Linked DNA regions of Homo sapiens. The protein of the gene in region 2 interacts with the protein of the main gene of each other region in a pairwise test. Each region holds a gene or a part of one and is shown on either strand. Other genes may lie near its edges.

Region 1 (6,681 bases), on a different chromosome or scaffold from region 2:
TTTGATAGAAATAGCATTGAATCTGTAAATTGCTATGGGCAGTTATGGCCATTTTAATGATATTGATTCTTTAAGAAGATATTAGAGTGCCTATGATATACCAACAACTGTAGTGAGCCCTGGGAACCAAACATGAAAAGATTTGGACACTTACTCTCAAGGAACTTTCAGCCTAATTGTTGCAATATACCTGAGTCATGGAGTCTGAGAGTCTTGCCTTCCACATCCCCAACAAGGTAAGTTGGCTAATTATCAGGCCTTTGTATTTCAGAATGGGAAACCTATCTAAGCTTAAGAACAAACCCTAAAGGAATTTTTGAGGAAGTGGTGTGGTGGAGAAGAGAGAAATGAGACCAGGCAATGGGAATCCAGGAGAGAAAATGGGAAAGAGAGCTTAAAAATGTCCTTAGGAGGTTCAAGTTTTTCCGTGCCTGTGTGAGGTAACTCACTCCGTGGACACCCTCCCCACCTCCAACCATTCTTCTGTAAAATTTATATTTCTTGCTAACACTCTTGGAGTTGGGGTTATTTAGAGTTTATTTGAACAACTATCTTAAACATATAATTATAACACATTTATTTGACATTTATAGAGCTCTAATTGTGTGCAAGGAACTGTGCAAGATGCTAGGGCAACAGCAGTCAACAAAGGAGACACATAGTCCTAGCCTCATGGAAGGTACAGCCAAGCAGGGGTGACACATGGTAGGTCAGTGCTGGGAAAGACAAACATGGTATGCTGAGGACATGGAACAATCAAGGGCATCCAGGCAGAGGCTGAGTGGAGGAGGAGTTTGCAAGGCTGTGCCAAGAACATTTTTCAGGGTAGAATCTACCCCCCAGGCAGAGATGTGGGGAATAAAGACCAAAATGGAAACAGCACTGGCCAAGTCTGAGAGCCACGTGAAAATAGCACAGCACACTTAGGGATCTGGGGATTTGGGATTGCTGGAGTCAAAGTGTTGAGTGTGAGGGGGTAGAAAAGCATAATTATATGTAGAGTCAGTGCCTGAACAGTTCAGTCAGAAAAGCACATTTTTCAGGCTAAGAAACTTGGCCTTGGTCCTGCTTAGGTTTTACAGACAAGAGATTGCCTTTCTGAAAGCTTACCCTGGAGACTGTGTAGCTAGATGATGGGCTGAGAGAAAAGGAGGAAGGTGGATATAAGAAAGCTCCTGCAAAAATGCAGGTGAAAAATGATGAGGACCTCCACTGGGGACGGGCAGGAGAGGGCAGATTTAAGGGATGTTTGGTGAAACTTTCAAGGGGAACTGCTGATGGACTGGCAAGAGGAATCCCAGCAGGATCAGGTGGCTATGCTCTGGACGGTTTGCATAACTGTCAGTGGCACCATTCACTTCACATTGTAGTTATAATCTCTGTCAACAGTGGCACCTGGAGATGTGCAGTACACAGCCTAGGCAATCTTACAGAGAAATCCTGACTCCAAACTCATCTGTTTCTATTACTTTTGAGCTTTGGAGGGATTTAAAGTTTTTCTTTCTCTTAGGGTTTTATTTAAGCCATTTTCTTTTGGAAAAATCTCAGCTAGCATCATAGAGTGCGGTAGGAAAGGAATGTAATTGGGAAATGATATTGTCTTATTTTTCTATATAATTTAGCCACCTTTACACTTAAGATGGCAGACACGGGAATTACATTTTTTTAATGGAGTTTCCCTCTTGTCACCCAGGCTGGAGTGCAGTGGTGTAATCTCGGCTCACTGCAACCTCCACCACCCAGGTTCAAGCAATTCTCCTGCCTCAGCCTCCCGAGTAGCTGGGATAACAGGCGTGCGCCACTACGGCCAGCTAATTTTTGTATTTTTAGTAGAGGCGGGGTTTTACCATGTTGACCAGGCTGGCCTCGAACTCCTAACCTCAGGTGATCCACCTGCCTCAGCCTCTCAAAGTGCTGGGATTACAGGTGTGAGCCACCGTGTCTGGCCAGGAGCTAAACAATTTGAGGTCAAGATGTGGCGTTAACAATGTTCCCACAGATCACAGAAACACAAGTGGACAGCAGAGGCCCTTCTTGCACTAGTACTTCTACCTGGATGGGGCCTCAGAGGTCTGACTTTCCACAGGAGAAGAAAATCTTTGAGAGCCAATTTTACTGCTGGGTGCTGATGTTTTCCTCAACTGTCTAAATAAATCTTCAGCTAATAAACATTTCAATAAATCTGTTCTGGTGCCTTCCATTCCTTAAACTATACAGCCAGAGAAGATGGAACATATGAGCTTGGATTCTGTCTCTGTAGCGGATGCAGGGATATAAGTGAGCTGAGTTTTACACATTCCAAAGGGGCCACTGATCAGGTACTTCGGGATGCACTCCAAGTGTCCTGGCTAATTAAGATAAACCAAAGATTAGAAGGCATTTCTGGCTGGGTGCAGTGGCTCACGCCTGTAATCCCAGCACTTTGGGAGGCGGAGGCAGGTGGATTACTAGGTCAGGAGTTCAAGACCAGCCTGGCCATGATGGTGAAACCCCGTCTCTACTAAAAATACAAAAATTAGCCGGGTGTGGTGGCAGGCACCTGTAATCCCAGCTACTCGGGAGGCTGAGGCAGAGAATTGCTTGAACCCAGGAGGCGGAGGTTGTAGTGAGCCCAGATCGTGCCACTGCACTCCAGCCTGGGTGACAGAGCAAGACTCTGTCTCAAAAAAGAAAAGGCATTTCTTACTCTATACACAAAGTCATGAACTCGTCGTTTTGAACAGCATAAATTTACATGAAATTTCAAAACTTTGCCCCTCCTTCCCCTTTCTCCCTTGCTGGCATGTAGCTGTTTTAGTTTGTTCTAGCAGAAGATAACTATGTGCCAAGAATCCAACTGGACACGGACTAAAATTACTTTCATCTTAGTGTGTACCTTGGAAGCGTAAAGCGATTTTTCCTTGGCAACCTTGCATGGTTAGTCCACACAAACTCCATCACTATGAACATGGGTCTTCCTTTAGAGGTGGCAAAAGCATCTGTCAGAATTTGGGGCAGGTATAGCTGGATAAAGCATATTGTAAACCTATAATTTAATGCAAACTGTCAAATTTTAAATTGGCTAAAATAGTTTTAGAAGGTATGCAAAAGATCAAGTAAAATATAAGCATGGTAAGGCACACGATAAATGGTTCCAGGGAATCAGAATCTAATACGAAGTTAAGTAAACTGAGTATTTTGATTAAGTTCAAGGTTGAGTAGGGAACGTCATCCATATTTTGGGAGAAGTCCTCCAATGTGAATATGAAATTATGCTATGCATGTGAGAACAACAGTTGTCATGAACTGAGTACTTCTCACATCAGGATTGTGCTTTGCCTGTGGGCCCAGGCTCAACATGTTAGATATCTCCATTTTATAGATTAAAAAAAAAAAAAACATGAGGCCACTGTCAGTGTCTACAAACAAGTAAGAGGCAGAGTTTCGATTAAATTCTAAATTTGTGATTCAAAAACCCAGGTTCTCTTTTACACACCTCATTCCTTCTTTGTAATTCCAGAGAGCTAAATAAGTCATGCCAGAACATTTTATTTTCTATGTGGCTGAGGTTCTACCCACTCAAGAAGGTAAAAATAATAGAAAAAGCTTTCTGATGAACACCTGTGGCACACACCTGTAATCCCAGCATCTTGGGAGGACGAGGCAGGTGGATCACTTGAGCCTAAGTGTTAGAGACCAGCCTGGGCAACATGGTGAAACCCCATCTCTACAAAAAATACACAAATTAGCCAGCTATGGAGGTGCACACCTGTGGGAGGATTGCCCAAGCCCAGGGAGGTCGAGGCTGCCATGAGCTTTGATTGTACCACTGTCCTCCAGCCTGAGTGCCAAAGTGAGATCCTGTCTCAAAAAATAGAAAGGGGAAAAAAAAGTTTTCTAAGATTGTATTATGCAATTCCTCACCTCCTCCAGTATGTTACAGTGAATATTTAATAACCTTTTCCTGGAAACTCATCCTTCACATGGATGACTGGACCACACCATAAATGAGGCGATGCTCCCAGGGTCTGTGGTGGGGAGGCTATTGGTACACACAGTGGTACTTTTCCAGTTTGCTTGACAGAATATGATTTTGATTCTTCCCCTGGCTGCTGTTCATGTGTTTGAAGTCCCTTTATTTATTTATTTATTTATTTGAGACGGAGTATGGCTCTGTTGGCCAGGCTGGAGTGAAGTGGCATGATCTCGTCTCACTGCAACCTCCACCCCCCAGGTTACAGCGATTCTCCTGCCTCAGCCTCCTGAGTAGCTGAAATTATAGGCACGAACCACCACGCCCAGCCAATTTTTTAATATTTTTAGTAGAGACGGGATTTTGCCATGTTGGCCAGGCTGGTCTTGAACTCCTGACCTCAGGTGATACACTTGCCTCAGCCTCCCAAAGTGCTGGGATTACAGGCATGAGCCACTGTGCCAGGCCCCTTTTCTTTCCTTAAATGGGGATCTCCCACTGCCTTGGGAACGAGATAATCAAACCAATTAGAGCTATATGTAAAATGAAAGTAAAATAGGCCTGAAGGGCTGGCCCACAAGGACCCCATAAGAGCCCAGATTCCTTAACTTCCACTTTCATGTCAGAGCAGCCCCACTGCATACCTCTTTTGTGCTGTGTCCCAGATAAAGGAGTACATCATGTCACCGAGTTCTAAGTAAGTGGGGTGCACTGAAACTTTCAGTAGAAGCAAGATGCAAACACATACAAACATGTATGATGTTATTTATTTTCTCACTGGCACTGGCCTACTGCACTTAAACATTTCCATCAGACTCAAAAAATAATTTTATTTCAGAAAAAATATTTTACCTATTTAGCTTTTGTTTATACTGTTTTATTATTAATAGGTTTTTTTTTCTTTTTTTAAGAGATAGGATCTTGCTGTGTTGCCCAGGCTGATCTCCAATTCCTGGCTTCAAGCAATCCTCCTGTCTCAGCCTCCTGTGCAGCTGGGACTATAGGTATATGCCACTGCTCCCAGCTTGACTTAATGGAATGTGTTTTTATTCACCCATTGGAAAAGCCTTTGCTACATATTAATACAAACTTCTCATTAATAAACCCTCCTTTTTTTTTTTTTTGAGACGGAGTCTCGCTCTGTCGCTCAGGTACGATCTCGACTCACTGTAACCTCCTCCGCCTGGGGTCAAGCAATTCTCCCGTCTCAGCCTCCTGAGTACCTGGGATTACAGGTGCACGCCACCATGCCCAGCCACTAATAAATCCTTCTTTAAGTAAGAAAATAATATAACATGAGCATAACTTTGCATGAATTTTAATGTCCTGGAGGCTTGTTGCTTTGTATAAAGTGCAGGTCAGTAAAAATTAAAATGAGGTAATGTGGTATAATACGATTAACCCAGTAAGGGTACAATAAAGGATGGCTATTATTATTATTATATTGTTATTATTATTTTGAGACAGAGTTTTGCTCAGTCACCCAGGTTACAGTGCAATGGCACGATCTCGGCTCACTGCAACCTCCACCTCTGGGTTCAAGCGATTCTTCCGCTTCAGCCTCCCAAGTAGCTGGGATTACAGGCACCTGCCATCATGCCCGGCTAATTTTTTGTATTTTTAGTAGAGACGGGGTTTCATCATGTTGGCCAGGCTGGTCTTGAACTCCTGACCTCAGGTGATCCACCCACCTTGGCCTCCAAAAGTGCTGGGATTACAGGTGTGAGCCACCGCGCCAGGCCAAGGATGGCTATTATTTTCACATGAATTCAACTGAAATCACGATAGGGCAACACCAATAACAATGTTTCCTATATAGCTTAAAAACTGTTCTTTGTCATCCCCTCATCTACCCAATAGGGAATTAGAACTAGCCTGTTAGGTTGCTTGACAGGACCACTGAATGCTGGGAATCAACCATACTCTATTCTCTCATTTAACAGATGGGGAAGCAGAGGTCCAGGGAATTTGGGAAACTTGTCCACAAAGGGACAACTACTTTGTGGCTGAACTATGTCTAGGACCAGGGCTCTCTTTATCAACATGAGTATCTCCTTCCTTTATCTGCCCCTTCATGTTTACAAGGCACCTCCTCAGCTCCATGATTTTGTTTGTTACGCTACATCACTCAGCTCATGAAAACGGCTTTTTTTCCTCTTTTCTTGTCTTTGGAAGATTTTTTGCATTCTTGTAGCAGCTGATTCCATACTAACCTTTAAATTGAAAAAATATATATACACACAGACACGTATGTGAATATGTGGGAGAAACAGCACTAGGTCTCCCTGGACAACCCAGTGCAGGCCACACCTTGGCAGTCACAGAGCACAAATAAGAAATGATCTTCCCGTGTGAGTTGCTTTCGACACTTCAATGCTAAAGAGCTCAGAAGTGCTTACACTTTGAAAGAAGCCTGAAAACATTTGTAGGCTACCCTTTAATGTGTCTCATTTGGAGATAGAACAGTGAGCAGGTTGACCAGCTGCTCTTCATGTACTTCTTGCAGTAAATCCTTCAAAGAATGAAGAGTGAAGACAATTCATTTTCCCTCCTGGAATTTTTCCTTCTTATTATTTTGCTTTTTTAAAGGTTGTTATATTCAGGTATAGGCATAAGACATTATAAAAGATAAGGGGTATCATGTGAGGGAGGAAATCCGACAATCCAAAAAATCTTCCATAGAAATTAAAAATCAGAACTTGGGGGCAAGGTAGGAGGCAACACATTCT
Region 2 (9,216 bases):
GCGATGGTCACTGTGAAGGCCCCCTCTGTGTCCGGCAGGTAGGTGGAGGGCACAACCTTGTAGGTGCCCGCAGGCAGGAGGCAGAGCCGGCTCACCTCCTGGGCGTAGCGATGTGGCACGCAGCTCAGCAGCGGCTCCTGCAGCAGCAGTGGGGGTGCGTCCTGGCTCCTTCCACCCTCTGGGACCTGAGGAAAGCGCAGGCTCAGACTGAGGGGGCCAGCCTTGGGGTAGGGAGCCCAGCCCAGGGCCATCTGCTCGGATGCCCTTGGCCCTCTTGAGTCACATACAGCCCCTTCTCTGAGGAGGGGCTGCCAGGCCTGGACACTGGACTCGCCTCCTCACCAAGGCCTGGCCACCCTTGCCAGAAGGTGCCGGCAGTGGGGCCCCCGCCTGGAGGCCTGTCACATCATCAGGGGCTTTAACACCTGTGACTGCCCAGCCCGCCCCAAGGGCTCCCACTGGCCCTGGCATGTGTTTTCCTCAGAGCTCTAGGGGACCTGAGCCGGTGGCCCAGGGCAAACAGCGAGGGTCCAAGGGTCCCCAGGCAGCCCACTGTGAACCGAGGGTTGCAGTGCCTTCCTCGTCAGGGCCCCTGCATTCCAGGGGACACATGTCTGCAGAGAATGAACCTTGGGACACAGTCATTCTGAGTCAGGGTAAGTGGACAAGGGGCTGCTGGCTGAGCTCAGTGACTGTGGACTTCCTCACACCCGAGGGGCTGCTGTGGCCAGCCAGCCTGGGCCTCCCCTCCTCTCACTCCTGAGTCCATCAGCCCCCTGCGTTCCCAAGCCAGGGCTCGACCCACCCCCGCTGGTCTCAACCTCGGCCTCCTGTCCTCTCCAAACTTCTCCCTTCCTCCCCACTCACCACCTCCTCTGGAAACCTGCCCTGCCTGGATCAGCCCTGCCCACCTCCCAGGCCCCCGGCCCTTCCAGAGGCCATCTTCGGCCTTGCCTCTGAGAGGTTGGAGATGGGAGAGGGCCCTGTGCGGGTTCTAGGCAGCGCCTCGAAGGGCAGGGGGAGCCCAAGTGACTGAGCCCAGAGCCCTCTGTTGGGACAATGGAGGCCAAGATGCAAATTCTCTGAGGGCCCCTTCTGCTCCCCCTCCCTCCCTGGGGCAAGGAGCTTGCCTGGAAGATATGGAAGCCGATGGGGTGGAACTCGGTGTCACTGGGCCGGCAGTGCTGATGCAGAGTGATGCGGACGCAGCGGGGGCCAGGGCCCTCGGGGACCGAGAAGGGGAAGCAGGGGTTGGTGGGGTATGAGGCAAAGTTCCTGCTGCCCCCCGCCGTCTGGCCGACTCTCCAAGAACCCCGTAGCTGCACGGTCCCCCACTCCCCCGCAGGCAGGGCTGCCCCGGGGGTGGTGTTCTTGGCCACTGCCCTGATGGCGCTGCCAAGAAGACAAACATGGGAGGGCGCTGGCAGCAGGTTCCCGGTGGCCTCAGTTCCCACATGGACACCTGCCAACCACAGAGGGAAAGTGCCCAAATCCTGCCTTGGAAGGGCCTGTGGCCTCGGAGAGCCAGCAGCACTGCGCGGTTCCTCTCACCTAAGGGAGACTCGCCCGGTAGAGAAGACTCGGAGCAGGAACTCCCCTGGCGCGTCCTTCAGGAAGGTGCTGGGGACAGCCAGGTAGTAGCCCGGTGAGAGCTCACAACGCAGGTGGACCTCCCGGTCGTATGCATGGCACGCGGTGCCAGCCACGGGGGGCATGGACAGGACCCTAGGCAGATTGACCCGCCGCTTCTCTACCTGTGAGCACGTGCAGGAGGCTCAGTGTGGAGGAGCGGCCGGGGTCAGACGCCCTGGCCTTGACCTCCCTGCTGCAAGCACAAGGGCCTCTGGAGTTGACAGATGAAAGCGCCAAGGCCTGTCAGCACCCTCCACCCTCTCTCAGGGACCAGCTAGAGATGCCCACCAATCCCGGGCTTCACTTGGCCCTGGCGCCAGTATCTGTCCCAGACACGAGCCTGCAAGTCCTCCTTGTAGCTGGGCCCACAAAGGCACCGTGGCCCAGGCAACCTGGGGGCTGCTGGACAGTGGGCCTTCCAGCAACTTCTTTTGCAAGAGGAAAGGAACATCATGTGGGCCACATCCATGAAGGGACAGGGAACAGTGTGGTGCCAAGTGTCACACCCTGTCAAGACACACAAGATGAAAACCCAGCCCCTGAGCGAGCAGCCGGCATATCCTCGACCCACACTCAGGCCCTTTGCCCTCAGGCGCCCCCATCTGTTCTTCCTGGAAACAACACACTTTGTGAACCAGTGGTTGAGCCTGGGACTGCCTGGGCCTCAGAGCAATCCCATGAGATCCGTGTCAGGACCCCGTCTTGCAGGGGAAGAGACTGAGGGAGGCAGGGAGAGGATGTGTGCCAGGTCACACAGCAAGCTGCAGAGCTGGGACTGGCCCTGACAGGTCCTCAGCCGCTGGCTCTACCTCCTTGCCTCAGAAAGGCACGGCGCTGCCAGGAGCCCCCCGGGTCCAGGCCCCTCCTGCGGGTCCTGCCCTGGCTGCAGACTCTGTTGCTTTCCTTTGGCCAATGAGGCACACGGCAAGGCAGAAAGACCTGCAGTCTCAGGTCAGAGCCGGGTCTGGGAGCACCAGCAGACGTCAACCCCGTGCAACAGCCCAAGGAGGGGGGAGACTGGTGGGGCCCGTGGCAGAGTCACATGTGTCCCGGCAGAGCCAGTCCTAGAACCCAGACCTCCATGGGCCTCCACACCACCTGCTGAACCGAGCGTGAGCCAGACGGGGCTGAGTTACCTTCCAGAGGTGCAGACCCACAGCCTGGTAGTGCTTGCCCGGGATGCTCGCTGGGCTCCACGAAGTATGACTGTCACCCACCAGTGCCCGGGCCCGGCCTGCCCAGTCCGCCGCGTGCAGCCTGGATCTCTGCAGGACGGCAATGTACACCTCACTCGGTTCTGAGACCCGCAGCCAGAATTTGGGGTTGCTGGGAAAGCCGCTGTTGTTCCGGCAGCCTCCTGCTGACTGGCCCTTGACCCAGGCCCCAGGCAGCGCCCGCGTATGGCAGAGCAGCCTCTCTAGTGAGAAAACACCAGGCATCAGCTGTGGGACACGGCTCCTCGCTGGCCTCCCGCCATGGTGGCCTCATGAACCCTGGCAGGGTCTAAGCAGCAGCTACGGCCACAGACAGAGCCAGCCCCTCCCACAAGCCCACCCTCCTCCCAGCTCCTGGGACAGAATCATCACCCTCCTCCCGGCTCCTGGGACAGAATCATCTCTCCACGCTGAAGAGAACCAAACTGGGCCTGGGCAGGGGGAACCCAGGCACCTGCCCAGCCTCCTCACTTCGGCAGGCAGAGCACGTGCCCAGCACAGCCCCTCGGGGCACTACCTGTGTAGAGGCTCTGCAGGTGGCCGGCCTCCGTGACCGGGTAGCCAACGGTGAGCTCGTCAAACTCCCTGAGGAACTCCTCCTCCTCCACCCAGAACTCCCCTTCCTGGAGCTGGGACAGGAGCTCAGATGCTACCGCTGCATCTACCTGGCTCCACCCTTCACCCCTGGAAGAAACCTCATCTCAGCAGAAGCCCCTCCCGAGAACTGGTAGTGTCAACTTGCCGGCAGGCTGGGGGGAAGCCTGGAGGGGACCCAGAGAGCCCTGAGTTCCTGCCAGCAACCCCGTGCCCCAGCTCTGCAGCCCCTCCCACACCCGAAGCAGCTCTGCAGCACAGGGCCTTCTGGGCAGCGGCCACCCTGGAGCCCTCTCTTTTCCCAGAGGAACTTCACGCCTCTGGATGCGTCTTCCCAGGACTGCTGCCCGAGCCCGTGATGATGTCTGCCCTATTGAAACCCCAGGCCCAATGGCCACCTTGGTCCCAGGCCTCACAAGGATTGCCTGGAGCCAAGACAAGCATGGTGTCACGAGAGCAGGGACTCAGGGGCCTTGCTGGAGACAGCCAAGTACAGTCCTGACAGCTGAAGGTGACCAGGACACAGGCCAGACTGGCACTGGGCCCCCCTCCCGACAGCAGCATGGTCCAGGCCCCAGCACTCACCCCTCTCTCCAGAGCCCCTGCCAGCACCGCCGGCCCCAGGGGTTCTGGATCCGCAGCAGCAGGATGCACTGGCCCGCCTGACCCTGGAGCTCCCGCAGGTCCGAGACAATGAAGGCATGGAACTCCCCCAGCTCCCGGGCACCTGCATGAGGAATGGCGCAGGCACAGGCAGGAAGGGCACCATGGAGTCCCAAACTGACAAGGACACACAGGCCTCTGCCTCCTCCTCTGGAGATGCTCCAGCCCACCCCACTATGGCTACACGGGAGACCCCAGATCCCCATGGACCACGAGAGCTCCTTTCTTAGCAGCTGTGACCCATCAGCTCAGGAGCATCTCCAGGAGCAAGCACACGGGGCCTGACTCGGCTGCCATCCGGGTCTGGTGCTGGGTAAGTCATCCCCTTCTCTAGGCCTCAGTCATCGTCCGTACCCATCTGTGCACGATGCCTGGCACAGCACCAGTTCTCAAACATGCTGCACAGATGCATCTGCAACTGCCAGAAATCTAGAGAGTGTTTCTCTTGGCAAAGCCTGCTAGAGGTAGGACATTCAGATAGTGCCCTGGCTAGAAGCCCACTGGAGGCATGGAGGCCCAGGGGGGCAACAGCTCCACCTGGCCAGAGACCTTGAGACAGATGGGCATAGAAAAGAAAGAGCCAAACAGAGAGGAAGGCCACATCTGTGGCGGGGCAACGGTCTAGAGAGGAGGGTCTCCTGGAAGGACTTCAGTCTCGCCCACGCCGCGGCCCCTTGCCACCTCAGCAGGCTCCAATGCACCTCCAGTCAGTGCCAGCTGCCATCTCTCTCTGCCTGGGGGCTTCCTCTAAAGCCTGAAGTGCTAGGACTTAGCGCTACCCCACCCTGGAGCACCCAAAACCAACAGCTCCCCGAGCTAATGCCCACCAGACCAGCGCCCTCACTCCCAGGTGGGAGGCTCTGAGGCCAGCGTCCTTCCTGGCACCCCAGCGGGGCTGGCGGGGAGTACACGCCCTCCAGGCTCTCTGAACCTCTCAACGTGCTCCTGAACCTCATCTCAGGGTCTGCTTATGGGGGACCCAGACCAAGGCCTATGACAACTTGTTTCAGTTTACTGTGATATTCATATTCTTTAACCCATATTTTTAAAATAATCCTAAGTATGAAAAAAATGATAAAGATGTTCATTGATACTGCTTATAATTATATAAAACCAGAGAGATCTTAATATCCAACATCAGGGGAATGATTAAGAGACTGTGGCAAACCCGCTCATGGGGCGAACATTTGACAGCGCGTGTGTGGCAGTGTGAGAAGCGGTGCGGAAGGGAACACGTAAACCGTGCGTGCTCATGGAAAACTGAGAGCGCACTCAAAAGTCACATGTGGTTCCATCTAAGTGATTTTTTTCCTTCATTTTTTGTAGAGATGAGATCTTGCCATGTTGCCCAGGCGGGTCTCTTGAACTCCTGGGCTCCAGCGATACTCCCACCTCAGCCTCCCAAAGTTCTGGGATTACAGGTGTGAGCCACCACACCTGGCCCCTTTCATTTTTTGGAGACAAACTGTTTTTAACGAATGTTATCTATCACTAAAATAAAAAACAGGTTTTGATTTTGCCAGGTTGCCAGCTGGGCCAGGGATGGCACAGACAGTGGGCTTTGACTCGGTGCCACCTCTTCCTGCCTCGCACTAGTGGAAAGGACTGGTCAGGGGAGAGAAGGGCCACGTCCCTCTGGAAGAGGACAGTAGGGGAAGGTCACAAACTGAGGACACCACCCTTGAGAACAAGCTTACTTCTTCCCACTTAGTCCTGACAGGGCTGTGTAGCCAGTCACATAAAAAGCTACAGTGTGCCTGAGGCCTGGCAGTGGGGGGCACGCTGGCTGCAGCCCTCCCATGCTGGCCACGTGCCTCACCTGCTCTGGGGCTGAGCACGCAGCAGCTGATCAGACACTGGTCCTTCAGGTGGAGCAGCTGCCGACAAGTCCTGTGCTCCCAGCGGCCTGGCCTGTCCTGCTGGCCTCCGCTTCCTGCTACGCCCTTCAGGTTCCATCTTTCTGCCAGGCCGCCGGTCAGGTCCACCAGGGCATCCGCCACCTGCCCGGCCCACAGGTGCTCGTAGGACCCATGGACCCTAGGGGACACAATCACCATGGGAGTGAGCCTCTGGCATTGAGCATGGCCCCCTCTCTGATTCCCATGGTCTGTAGCACCCCAAATCGTCCAACCGCTGCCTCAATCCCACCTCTTTACTCCCCTCTGCCTTCTTCCTCATCCTCACCAAGTCAAGGCTTAGCCTCACCTTCAAACGCCTTACTTCACAGCAAGCGTGAGCGCCCTGCAGTCCTCTGCCCACACACAGAAACTCTCTGGCATCCGGTGTGGGCACAGGAGCAGGGCAGGAGGCGTGGAAGCTATGGATGCCCACATCCCTTGGCTCTCAAGCTCCAACCCTGCTTTTCCTAAAACAGCCCTTGGGATGGAAGGGCTCACTGGGCACTGATGTCACCAGCCAGCCTTCCCATGTTCACCAGCTTCCCTGCCTGCCTGTCAGTCCAGTTGCCTTTGGCAAGAAGACAAATGCATTCTAAGAGGGAAGGCTATTCAATTATGACTCATGGTGAGGGTCCTGGTCCCCTGAGCCAGCAAGCACCGTGATACACAAGTGTTGGTATGCTGGGGTAGCCTCATTCCTCCCCAACGACTACACAATGAGTCTGCCTGTCCCAACCACTCCACAACAAATATAAAGAAGCATCTTTCTTGCTGGGGCCGATAAAATAAGGAGGACGGCACACATGTTCTCTGTGGAGAACGACTCCACGCTGGGCTTTGGAACAAGGGAAGGGAAAGCAGGGAGTGGGCAATCCACAGGCCCAAAAGAAGAATCTCTGCACCTGGCCTGTCAGCCTGACTCACAGAATGAGCTGCCAGACCCTCAGAACTGAAGGGGGCTCTGCAGCCCAGAGTGAGCAGAGACCCTCCTGGGGCAGCCCATGGTAGTGGCAGCTCCCACTTGCCCCAGGCCAGGCCCTTCAGCCCCCAGCACACGCACTTGGCGTAGACCTTTTCCAGTAAGGGGAGCCAGAACACATCCTCCCTCTGGCAGCGGGAGAAACAGAGTCTCCCTGCAAGGCACGGCAGGCGGTCATCTGTGGTCACCTCCACCCAGCGTCCAAACTGCCAAATGCGACAGGTGAAGGAGCCCCGGTACTCCTGGTCGGCCCAGCTCGGCTGTCCCGGAGGAATGACCTGCCATGCACAGGGAGAAGCAAAAGGCGAGCGTGATATAAGCACCACCCGGCGCTACTCCAGTGTCCCGGCCGCGGTGTGGCCACAGCTGAGTGCTCCACAGGCACCGCGGTCTGCAGAGAACTCTAACGCACACCTGGATGTCGCAGAGAACTCTACGGCACACCTGGATGTCGCAGAGAACTCTACGGCACACCTGGATGTCGCAGAGAACTCTACGGCACACCTGGATGTCGCAGAGAACTCTTCGGCACACCTGGATGTCGGCGCCTGCACAGGGCTGCATCACCCACATGAAATTAACAGACCTCTCATTGCAAAACTTGAGGACCACACCGAGGGAGCCACATATCCCGGGACACACTCTGCTGCCCTCACTAAAAGCATCTGACCTGAAGCCAAAACAAATGTGACATTCAAGGGCATGAGTGACCCAGTTCTTGACCGAGCTGGCTGCAAGCAACACGTCACCACAGGAACAGCAGCCCCTCCTGCTGCTGGGAGCCTGGCGCCCCGACACTGGGCCAGCTGCTTGCACCCACAGCGTCCACCGCAGGGCTCCTTCAGGGGTAAGCATTCTGACCCAGCATCGGGGGAGTGCAGGCTGGGCACCAGGCACCTGGTGCGGTCCTGGCTCTGCCACTTTACGGCCAGAAACACAATGGCAGTGATTTTAGCACTCTCGTTTAAAAAAAAAGTCAAAGCTGGTAAGACCATGTGTCTGAAAGCCAGTGACTGTGACACGCTTACCATGGGGCCTGGGACATGAGTGAAACTCTGAATGAGGTCACACTGTTGACGCCGCTGCATTAATCAGCAACACTTAGCAACAAGCCAAGCATAAAACGGTGAACACTCCCAGGTAAGGAAAACCTGAGAAGGCCTTCTCCTCCCAGAGTATCTGTCTACCCACAGAAACAGGTTTAATAACTTTTTGCAAACTTATATTCAAAACCTGTAAGAAAACCAGCGAGCTAGCTGAGGAGAGATCTGAGGCAGAGGCTGCCAGCCAGCCCCGTCCTCCTGTGAGCTGGCACATTTGTCTCTTTATTCTAAACGTGGTGATCTGACTCCATGGAGTCCGGGGGTCAGGAGAGCACAGAGCAGGGCGAACCTCCCTGATGGAGCCTTCTGGCGAGGCCAAGGCACCCCCCCCTGCAGCAGAGGGACAGAGTGCAGTCCTCAGCCTCTGCCTTGGAACTCTCCTGCCTTCCCCCAACACAGCAGGAGATCCGGCTGCGGCACAGCTCTGCTTTCGCAAGGCCTCCTGGTACTCAGCAGGCTGGAGAAACGCAAAAAGAAACCGGCTCCAGGACAAACACAGGGAAGGGGCCCCGCACCTGGTCCAGGAGGTGCCTGCTCTTCTGCAGCGCGGCGCAGGCACACAGGAACCAGCAATCCCCCAGCAGCCCCTGCTTCACCTGCCCTTCCCGTGGGTCATCTGGAAACAGCCGGGGTGTGGCACAAATCTCCTGAGATACAGAAAGTTGTCCAGAGTTAGATCATGCCTGCTGTGGAACCCTTCAAACTAAGAACCCAAGGCTCTAGATGACAGGAGTTGGGGTGGAGCTTTTCCGATCATCAGTGTTACCCAAAAAGGGACAGGAAGGTGGTTTCCTGCAGCGGGTGTCCTTCAGCTCCTGGCTTCAAATGCCTCTGTCCAGCTTAATTCTGGGGTGCCTTCCTTCCTTACTGGAAAAATCCCAAACTCTAGCAAGCTCCTTCTCAAAACAGCTAAATGTTGGCTTCGAAAAGTTTCACTTTTTACTCATGCTGGTAAATCTCAAATGTGTCCTCCATCCTGCTGGAAATCTGTTTCTCTAGCAGGCTCCATTTCCCACACCCCCTAACTATCATATACCTTCCCCTTTCTCCCCGTCTACTCAAAACATCCACACTGCCCTTGCCCACCCCTCTGAGCTTCGACCTTGCCTCCTGCTTCTGGACCTGACCCTCTC

The links. Proteins that work in one complex are often made in the same cells at the same time.
Region 1: the proteins of CAPN10 (region 2) and FXN interact in binary tests that used the Homo sapiens proteins (3 or more experiments, as listed by UniProt).

Annotation. Positions count from the first base shown.
Region 1 is NC_000009.12:69,072,915-69,079,595, reverse strand, and holds the end of FXN (frataxin, mitochondrial isoform 1 preproprotein), read right to left. Parts: 3' UTR 520-6,681; downstream 1-519.
Region 2 is NC_000002.12:240,588,857-240,598,072, reverse strand, and holds part of CAPN10 (calpain-10), read right to left. Parts: intron 8,731-9,216; coding exon 8,599-8,730; intron 7,259-8,598; coding exon 7,062-7,258; intron 6,141-7,061; coding exon 5,923-6,140; intron 4,168-5,922; coding exon 4,026-4,167; intron 3,531-4,025; coding exon 3,364-3,530; intron 3,050-3,363; coding exon 2,769-3,049; intron 1,755-2,768; coding exon 1,552-1,754; intron 1,393-1,551; coding exon 1,131-1,392; intron 186-1,130; coding exon 1-185.